Linked DNA regions of Homo sapiens. The protein of the gene in region 1 interacts with the protein of each later gene in a pairwise test. Each region holds a gene or a part of one and is shown on either strand. Other genes may lie near its edges.

Region 1 (5,232 bases):
CTTGGCCTCCAAGGTGCTGGGATTACAGGTGTGAGCCACCGCGCCTGGCCTCCTGTGTTTAACATATATACTGTTGTTGTCATTGTGGGGTCTTTTTGTTTGTTTTTAAGCATTTCCTTTCTGGCACTACAAGATGCTTCAAGTTCATCTTGTATATTTCATGCCCTTGTCCTAGAATCAGCCTTTTCTCCAAGGACCAGGGCCATTTTTAATCTAATTTGAAAATTACATTCTCGATTGGGACTATTAAGTTTGAAGTAGAGAAAAATTGAACATTGACTAACTGCTGTTCATTGCATGATCATGAAGAATAGATCTTTGTCATCCTAGCACTTGTATTGCCAATTTATGAAGTAAAACAAATCATGTTAAAAAAAGAAAAAGAACAGGCAGTAAGCTCACATGCAAAGTAATTTTGAAGTTAATGAATAAATGCTTTGACTGGATGTGTGAACTTAAGCAAGTCCTATACCCTCTCTGACATCTATAGAATGAAGGGATTGGATTAGATAATCTCTGGGGCATCATCTCTTATTTTGTGATATTAGTTGTATAATTTTAGCTATTTGGTCAGTCCAGTGCAAAGTTGTGCTCAGTGTGCCCAAATTTCAGTAACAGATTTATTTTACTTTTGAAATATTTCACTAACACTGAGTAAATACATTTCAGCCCCATATTTCTACATTCCACAGCTTTTTATGAGTAGTTCATGAAAATGGCATACAACTTTACTGATAGTTCTGCAAACCTTCACAGTAGTGCTATAAGACAAAGTGTTTTTATTTCTCTTTTGCTCTTAAGTTGGAAAAGTTAAGGGATTAGCCTCTGGGTCAGTTCAGTATTAAAACAGGGCAACTCTCTAGGGTGCTAAATTTAACTGAACTATTAAGAGAATTATAATGTCTGCTATTTGGAGATGGCTGCCTATTCTTTTACAAAGTTGTGTTCAATTGCCTAATACCTTTGTATTTATAATAAGTGTATTATCTTACTATAGTATTTTGAAATAATATTCAAAATATTTTTTGGCAAACAACATCCTCATTTTATATGTGCTAATTCTATTTGGTTTTAAAACTGTTTTCGTATTATTAATAGAAAAGATAGTGTTCATAACTGTAAATACTTGCTTTCTCTATTAAACAGAAACCATTTCTCCACCGAAGGAGGAGAGTCCGAAAGCGCAAACACCACAATAGCAGTGTAGTCACAGAAACTATTTCTGAGACCACTGAAGTGTTAGATGAACCTTTTGAAGATTCTGACTCCGAGAGGCCAATGCCAAGATTAGAACCCACGTTTGAGATCGATGAAGAAGAGGAGGAAGAGGATGAAAATGAACTTTTCCCTAGAGAATACTTCCGTCGTTTGTCTTCGCAGGATGTACTCAGGTGTCAGTCCTCTTCTAAGAGGAAGTCTAAAGATGAAGAAGAAGATGAAGAGTCAGATGATGCTGATGGTATGTTTTACAGAACTCACTTACTGTGGTTTATTGTCTTCAGATATATAGCAGTAGCAGTGACAGACCCTTCAGTAAAAAGGCTGAAAAATGAACACAACCCACTAAGCAAGAAAAGGAACGTTTGGCAATCTCTAAAAAGTTGTATCAAGTATATCCATCTTGATTTTTAAATGTGTTTTCCCTTCAACTCAGAACCTCTATTAATTTGCCTCTGCAGAAAATATCTTACTATTAGGCAACTGTTCTTTTTTGCCCAATCCTTTCTAAGCCTTTATCAGAATCTTTAGTTAATGGGAGAGTTGGACTTAGCATCAGGAAGATGTAATAACCCTTCACTAGAATGTGCATTCTCTAGACTTAGTCTGTTTTGCTCATTGCTGTATGCTGAGTGCTTAAGCCCGGCGCTCAGTAAGTAGTGTTAAATGAGTGAATGCTAAGAAGACAATTCTCCAGAAAGAGCAGATTCATGTAAATTGGAACTTGTGTCACATCTGTTCAGGAGTCTTTCCTGAATTGTATCTCTAATGTGTCTTACCCAACTAGTAGTAAATTTCTCACAAATGGTAACAATAACTCAAAATAAATTTTATAGTATAGATACAAATCCAACTATTTACTTTTAAAGCAGCCTAGTTGTCATTTCTTCTCTAGAGACACTGAAACTAGGTCTCATATATATGAGCCAGGTCAGAAACAAGTCTTTTTCACCCTAGCCTAAAGTTTTGCCAGTGTCTCATGCTGCCTGCATCTGCAGTGTGTTTATCTCGCATGGGCTCAGAATGAGCATTTTTACTTTGTTGGGCAAATTTGAAGAAATCTACTTGTCCAGTCTTGGTACATAAACCTTTAGCTTTTATGCATTAACTGGTTGAACTTTTTAATTCTTTTAAAAATTCAGTCAGTTTCAAGTCTAGAAGATAAACTTACATTTTCTCCATTCTCATATTTTCTATATAACAAATACTTTTTTATTTTTTATTTTTTATTTTTTTGAGATGGAGTCTCCCTCTGTCACCCAGGTGGGAGTGCAGTGGCACAGTCTCAGCTCACTGCAACCTCCACCTCCGGGTTCAAGCGATTCTCGTGCCTCAGCATCCCAAGTAGTTGGGATTATAGGTGCACGCCACCATGCCTGGCTAATTTTTGTATTTTTAGTAGAGACGGGGTTTCACCATGTTGGCCAGGCTGGTCTCAAACTCCTGACCTCAAGTGATCCACCCGCCTTGGACTCCCAAAGTGCTGGGATTACAGGTGTGAGCCACCCTGCCTGGCCAACAAATACTTTTAATATAGTGATAAGATGAATGTGTTCTTTGCTCTATCATGAATGATTCTACAGAGTTTAACTTGCTATGTTTTGAAATAACATAACTAGGAAACTAAAAATTTATTTTGTAAATTTAGCACTTTATATTCTGTCTTAGATCATTGTACACTAAAATAGTACCCCTGATTAAGTTCCCATGGACTTAGATTTTTGCTGATGCAGCCATTTCCTTTGTTGACTTTCAAGTTACTACTACTAACTGTGCCTTTTTAGCCGTGCCCCCACTGCATCATGTTCTTGTCTTGGTATTCTTATTCTTTAAAAATTAATAGGCAATGTGAGTGTACTTAATGCCACTGAACTTAACACTTATAAATGGTTAAAATTTTAAGTTTTATGTTACGTATAGTTTACCATAGTTTTTTTAAAATGCTAATAATATAAAATTTATTTCTAATGAATGTAATTGGTGCTTTAATTTTTTCTTGTTTGTCTAAGTCTAAATGTCAGTTTTTGTCTAGGACTAAATAAATGCTTTGCAGCTATTCCCATACAAACACAACATTAATTGAACAACTGTTCACATACGATGGCTCAGTCATGGCCTAGAGTAATTGGCTCATCATACTACCTGAAGTGATGATTTGTGGAAAGTAAGAAAATCCGAGAGATAAAGTAAATCACAAGCAGAAAAAAAAAGAGGAAATAAGCTAATTTGTAACTTTTAGTAGAGACAACTTGATAAAAGTACTGCTTACTACTTATTTGCCTCTTTATAAAGTTCATCTCCATTTTACAGATGATGAAACTGAAATGTAGAGTAACTTCCCACAGACATGCAGCTGATGATGGTAGTCTTGAATTGGTTCTGACTAGTGTCTGATAACATAATGTTGACCAGGATTCTTTCATAGTTCTGCCAATTCACTGTGTGACTTAGAATATGTCACTAATTAGTTTTATCCTCTAGGTTCTTAACTTTAAAATGAAGACAATCAGGAGTTTATAAAAGTAATGATTAATAAAGTCATTTCTATTGTATATGCTAGTCTTGGAAGAAGGAACTAGAAAATGTAAGACCTTGTAACCTGTCTTTGTTTTTTTTCCTTCCTGTATAGACACTCCTATCTTAAAGCCAGTATCTCTTTTGCGAAAACGTGATGTGAAGAATTCTCCTCTTGAGCCAGATACATCCACACCTTTGAAAAAGAAAAAGGGATGGCCCAAAGGCAAGAGCCGCAAACCAATCCACTGGAAGAAAAGACCTGGTCGAAAACCAGGATTTAAGTTGAGTCGGGAAATCATGCCAGTTTCTACTCAAGCATGCGTCATTGAGCCCATCGTTTCCATTCCTAAAGCTGGACGTAAACCCAAGATCCAGGAGAGTGAAGAAACTGTTGAGCCAAAAGAAGACATGCCCCTACCCGAGGAGAGGAAGGAGGAGGAGGAGATGCAAGCAGAGGCAGAAGAGGCTGAAGAGGGTGAGGAAGAGGATGCAGCCAGCAGTGAAGTCCCAGCAGCCTCTCCAGCAGACAGCAGCAATAGTCCTGAGACCGAAACCAAGGAGCCTGAGGTGGAGGAGGAAGAAGAGAAGCCCCGTGTCTCAGAGGAGCAGAGGCAGTCAGAGGAGGAGCAGCAGGAATTAGAGGAGCCAGAGCCAGAGGAGGAGGAAGATGCAGCTGCAGAGACTGCCCAGAATGACGACCACGACGCTGATGATGAGGATGATGGCCACCTGGAGTCCACAAAGAAAAAGGAGCTAGAGGAACAGCCCACGAGGGAAGATGTCAAGGAGGAGCCTGGTGTTCAAGAGTCTTTTTTAGATGCTAATATGCAGAAGAGTAGGGAAAAGATAAAGGATAAAGAGGAAACCGAGCTGGATTCCGAAGAGGAGCAGCCTTCCCATGACACGTCCGTGGTGTCAGAGCAGATGGCTGGGTCTGAGGACGACCACGAAGAAGACTCCCACACTAAGGAAGAGTTAATCGAATTAAAAGAGGAGGAAGAGATTCCTCATAGTGAGCTGGATCTGGAAACTGTACAGGCAGTGCAGTCTTTGACTCAAGAAGAAAGCAGTGAGCATGAGGGCGCCTACCAGGACTGTGAGGAAACTCTTGCGGCGTGTCAGACCCTGCAGAGTTACACCCAGGCTGACGAGGACCCTCAGATGTCCATGGTTGAAGACTGTCATGCGTCAGAACATAATAGCCCTATCTCCTCCGTTCAGTCTCACCCCAGCCAGTCAGTCCGTTCGGTCAGCAGTCCCAACGTGCCTGCCCTTGAGAGTGGCTACACCCAGATCAGCCCAGAACAAGGATCCCTGTCCGCACCCTCTATGCAGAACATGGAGACCAGCCCCATGATGGATGTGCCTTCCGTATCAGACCACTCTCAGCAGGTGGTGGACAGCGGCTTCAGTGACCTGGGCAGCATTGAGAGCACCACTGAAAACTATGAGAACCCAAGCAGTTACGACTCCACGATGGGCGGCAGCATCTGTGGG
Region 2 (4,366 bases), on another chromosome or scaffold:
CTGGCTATGCTGGGGAAGTATATCCACACAAGTGGATTCTAGGCGTGAGCCACTGCGCCTGGCGGCTATTGTTGATTTTGATAGCTTATTCTAACACCTTATTTTCCTTCAAGAGACTTCATAGTCATAACTCGTAGTCAGTTATGATCCTTTTTTTAGGTGGTATCACTTTATTACATTTGTCTTATTCTCCTTTTATTTTCTGTGACTCTGCCCGCCTACTGACTACCTGTCTACCTACCTGCCTACCCAAGTCAGTGTTTCCCGAACTGTATTTATGGCTTCCTAATATGCTGCAAGTATTTTAAGTGTGGGGTGAAATACGTTTATAATGCACATGAGCTCTTTAAAGCCTCAGAAACATTTTATACTATAGAGGGTTTTTGTTTTTCATTTTCCTCCCTTACCCCAAAGAATACCTGTTTCTTTCTCATGAGATACTCATGGGATAGATACTACTATTCTAGTTTAATAGAACACAGTTTGAGATGCACCTGTAAAATTAATTTTTTTTAATTTAAATTTAAATTTTTTGAGGAAAGGTCTTGCTCTGTCATCCAGGTTGGAGTGCAGTGGCGCAATCTCTGCTCACTGCAGCCTTGACCCCCTCGGGCTCAAATGATCCTCCTGCCTCAGCCACCTGAGTAGCTGGGACCATAGGCATGCACCATCACACCTAGCTAATTTTTGTATTTTTTATAGAGACAGAGTTTTGCCATGTTGCCCAGGCTGGTCTTGAACTTCTCAGCTGAAGTGATCTACCCACCTTGGTATCCCAAAGTGTTGGGATTACAGGCATGAGCCACTATGTCTGGATTTATTTTATTTAAAAATAACTTTAGGCCAGGCGCGGTGGCTCATGCCTGTAATCCCAGCACTTTGGGAGGCCAAGGCGGATGGGTGACCTGAGGTCAGGAATTCAAGACCAGCCTGGCAAACATGGTGAAACTTTGTCTCTACAAAAATACATTTGCTGGGCACGATGGCGGGTACCTGTAATCCCAGTACTCGGAAGGCTGAGGTGGAAGAATCGCTTGAACCCGGGAGGCGGAGGTTGCAGTGAGCTGAGATCGCTCCACTGCACTCCAGCCTGGGCGACAGAGCAAGACTCTGTCTCAAACAACAACAACAACAACAACAACAACAAAAACAAAAACAACAAACTGTGCTCAGGACACAGTGCCTGAAGTTTTTTTGGTTTGGCCACTTTTATTTCCTACCACTTAAATACCTTTTCTTCAGTTCTTGTTATAACCTTCTCACTCATTTGATCACTTCATGTCTTGTATTAATGTTTATTACTTCCATTTATATTTTAGAGATAATTATGTTCTCTTTATTAGATTATACATCTCTTGAAGGCAGAAAGTTTTCCTGTGACTACAGCAGTATGTGTGTTCACACTTAAAATTAGATGTATTCTGAAAAACATTTTATTGACTCCAAGATGCCATCATTTGTAAAATGAATTATTATTTTGTATACTGCTAAGAATGAAAAAAATGCCAGTTAACCTCTGTGAGACCTTTCCTAATTCCAGTGGCATACTATACAAATGTAAAACAAACATTATGAGTCTTAGAGTCATTGAAATATGGTCCATCTATTTAGGCTGACTTTCGTTTCACAACTGTCTGTTCCCTGGAAAGCATGTCTGAAGAAAGATTTTAAAGCAGATTATTGTCTCTTGTAGTAACATTATTATAGGTTGCATTCCTGCCTAAGGACTTAGCATGAAAAATCTTAGCTACAGCCAACAGAGATGCTACCATAAACCTATAGTAATTATAGTTAAATTATGTTCTACTTCCTATGGAGTAGGGATAATCATTATGTATTTTGGTTTGTAATATATGTTGTATATCTATAATATACACAAATACTACCTTACTGTATTATCATTTTGACCTAAAATGTGCTGAGTTTATGTTAAATATTGATGTTCCTCATGATTCTATCCATTAACCTCTCCCTCAGTACTTTTTTTTTTTTTTTTTTTTTTTAAGACAAAGTCTCGCTCTGTCGCCCAGGCTGGAGTGCAGTGGTGTGATCTCAGTTCACTGCAAGCTCTGCCTCCCGGGTTCACACCATTTTCCTGCCTCAGCCTCCTGAGTAGCTGGGACTACAGGCGCCTGCCACCATGCCTGACTAATTTTTTGTATTTTTTAGTGGAGACAGGGTTTCACCATGTTAGCCAGGATGGTCTCAATCTCCTGACTTCGTGATCCGCCTGCCTTGGCCTCCCAAAGTGCTGGGATTACAGGCGTGAGTCACTGCACCCAGCCCTCCCTCAATACTTTGTTTAAACACCAATTTGGTCCAGCCTCAAATTTTGAAAATCTCTCTCTGGAGATGCAGATCTGTGTTGTCTTTTGCCTCCTTGAATATCTTTTTGGCCCTAAGTTTCAGAACTTACCAAGCTGTAGTATTTGTCTACCGTTAACTAACTATTATGCTATTGCAGAAAAGTTGTTAAGAGCTCTAGACTCAATCTGCAGCCCACTGCTTATTAACTCTGTGACTTCGGGCAGGTTATTTACCTTTCTGGGTCTCAGTTTCCTCATCTGTAAAATTGAGATAATAATAATACTCGTGGGTTTGTTGTGAGGACCAAAGTAATTAATTCATATAAAGTATTTAAAAAGGTCCCTGGCACATAGTAAATGGTCAATAAATATCAGCCTCTTTTTATTATTACTGTTATTGTCATCTAGAGATCTAGCTTTCCAGTATGTTCTCTTTGTTGTTTATAATAATCAGGAGATCTGCAGGAGACAATGGGTGAACTCTAGATGGTTTGAATAGATTCTCTTTGAGGTACCAATTCTAAAATGTTTGCTATTCCTTGAATATAGGAAATGCTAAAAACAATATGTGATTAAATACCAAGTGAATAGAGTAATAGTACAGTTTGAAGTTTGGGGTGTTAATAAATGATCAGAATATCATGGCTTAGCTTCCTGAAGGAGGTTTTTTTTTTTTTTTTTTTTTTTGAGACAAGGTCTTGCTCTGTTGCCCAGGTTCTAGAGTGCAGTGGTGCATGATCACGGCTCATTGCAGCCTCGATCTTGAGGGTCCAAGTGATTCTCCCACCTCGGCCTCCCAAAGTGCTGTTACTACAGGTATGACCCACCACGCCTGGCCTCTGAAGGAGATTTATATAAGTAGAACAATGGCAAGTAGGAAATTAGAAGTATTACTTTATTATTAATTTGGGCTTTTGGCCAAAATACCAATGTAAATTTGTGTAGTAAACAGGGTGACATCATATTACTTAAGCTCCAGGACTAGTCAAGGGCTCTCTCATCCTCCTAAATTTCACTGTCTTACTACTCTTTGGTTGATGGCTTTGCAGAAGACCCCAACAATTAGTCTTTTAGAGTGTGTAAGAGTGAAATGACCAAGAACAAGAACACAAACTCTTACATGTATGTGACTTTTTTTTCTATCTTGCACTTGAATCAAGATTTGTGTAACTTTTAATCTTCATTGATCTTCATAGTTGTACACAGGGTTCAATCAGTACTGTGGACTCTTGACCCAATCCGATTAGTGTTCCATCCTCTTAGAGAGATTCAAGAAGAAAGGCAATTGAGGGAAAGAGCAAGACCTCTTGTTGGTCTGGCTTCAAATCTCTAATGAGGTTGATGTAATGGCCTGTGAGGAGTAACTAAAAATATTTGGCTATCTGCCTAAGCAGCCCTACATTCTGACATTTTTCAGTATAGTCCCTGGGACTGGGTGGGGGGCGGCGGAACTGCAAAGTATTTTTCAAATTTAAGGATAAAGCTGGATGTGGTGGCTCACAACTGTAATCCTAGTGCTTTGGGAGGTCGAGGCAGGAGGCTCCCTTGAGACCAGGAGTTTGAGACCAGCCTGGGCAACGTAACAAGACCCCCGTCTCTGCAAAAAAAATTAAAAATTAGCCAGGCGTGGTAGCACGTGCCTGTAGCCCAAGCTACTCAGAAGGCTGAGGCGGGAGGATTGTTTGAGCCTAGGAGGTCAAGGCTGCAGTGAGCCAATATTGTGCCATTGCTTTCCAGCCTGGGAGACAGAGTGAGACCCTGTCTCAACAACAACAAAATGTAAGGATAAGAGAACCCCATAAGGTACAGTTAGGGAAAGATATCTTGTGATAAATAAGATTTGCCATGTGGAAAACTGACCCACCATCAGTGATAACTGCTATGGCATTTTGGTAAGATGCTGATGCTAATTTTGGTAACAGGAGTGTCATCTTTGAGGAATATGATTATGTGTGATTATATTAGCAGAGCAAAGCTGAAGTCTAGTCACATTGTACTCTCATATTGTAGCCTGAAGCAAGAATATGATGACAGCAGGGGAGTGATGAACTTGGAGGCTA

Evidence for each region.
Region 2: the proteins of KAT6A (region 1) and RERE interact in a two-hybrid assay, tested with the Homo sapiens proteins (one large-scale study listed by BioGRID and IntAct).

Annotation. Positions count from the first base shown.
Region 1 is NC_000008.11:41,933,483-41,938,714, reverse strand, and holds part of KAT6A (histone acetyltransferase KAT6A), read left to right. Parts: intron 1-1,146; coding exon 1,147-1,459; intron 1,460-3,847; coding exon 3,848-5,232. UniProt on the Homo sapiens protein: Histone acetyltransferase that acetylates lysine residues in histone H3 and histone H4 (in vitro). Component of the MOZ/MORF complex which has a histone H3 acetyltransferase activity. May act as a transcriptional coactivator for RUNX1 and RUNX2.
Region 2 is NC_000001.11:8,806,775-8,811,140, reverse strand, and holds part of RERE (arginine-glutamic acid dipeptide repeats protein), read left to right. Parts: intron 1-4,366. UniProt on the Homo sapiens protein: Plays a role as a transcriptional repressor during development. May play a role in the control of cell survival. Overexpression of RERE recruits BAX to the nucleus particularly to POD and triggers caspase-3 activation, leading to cell death.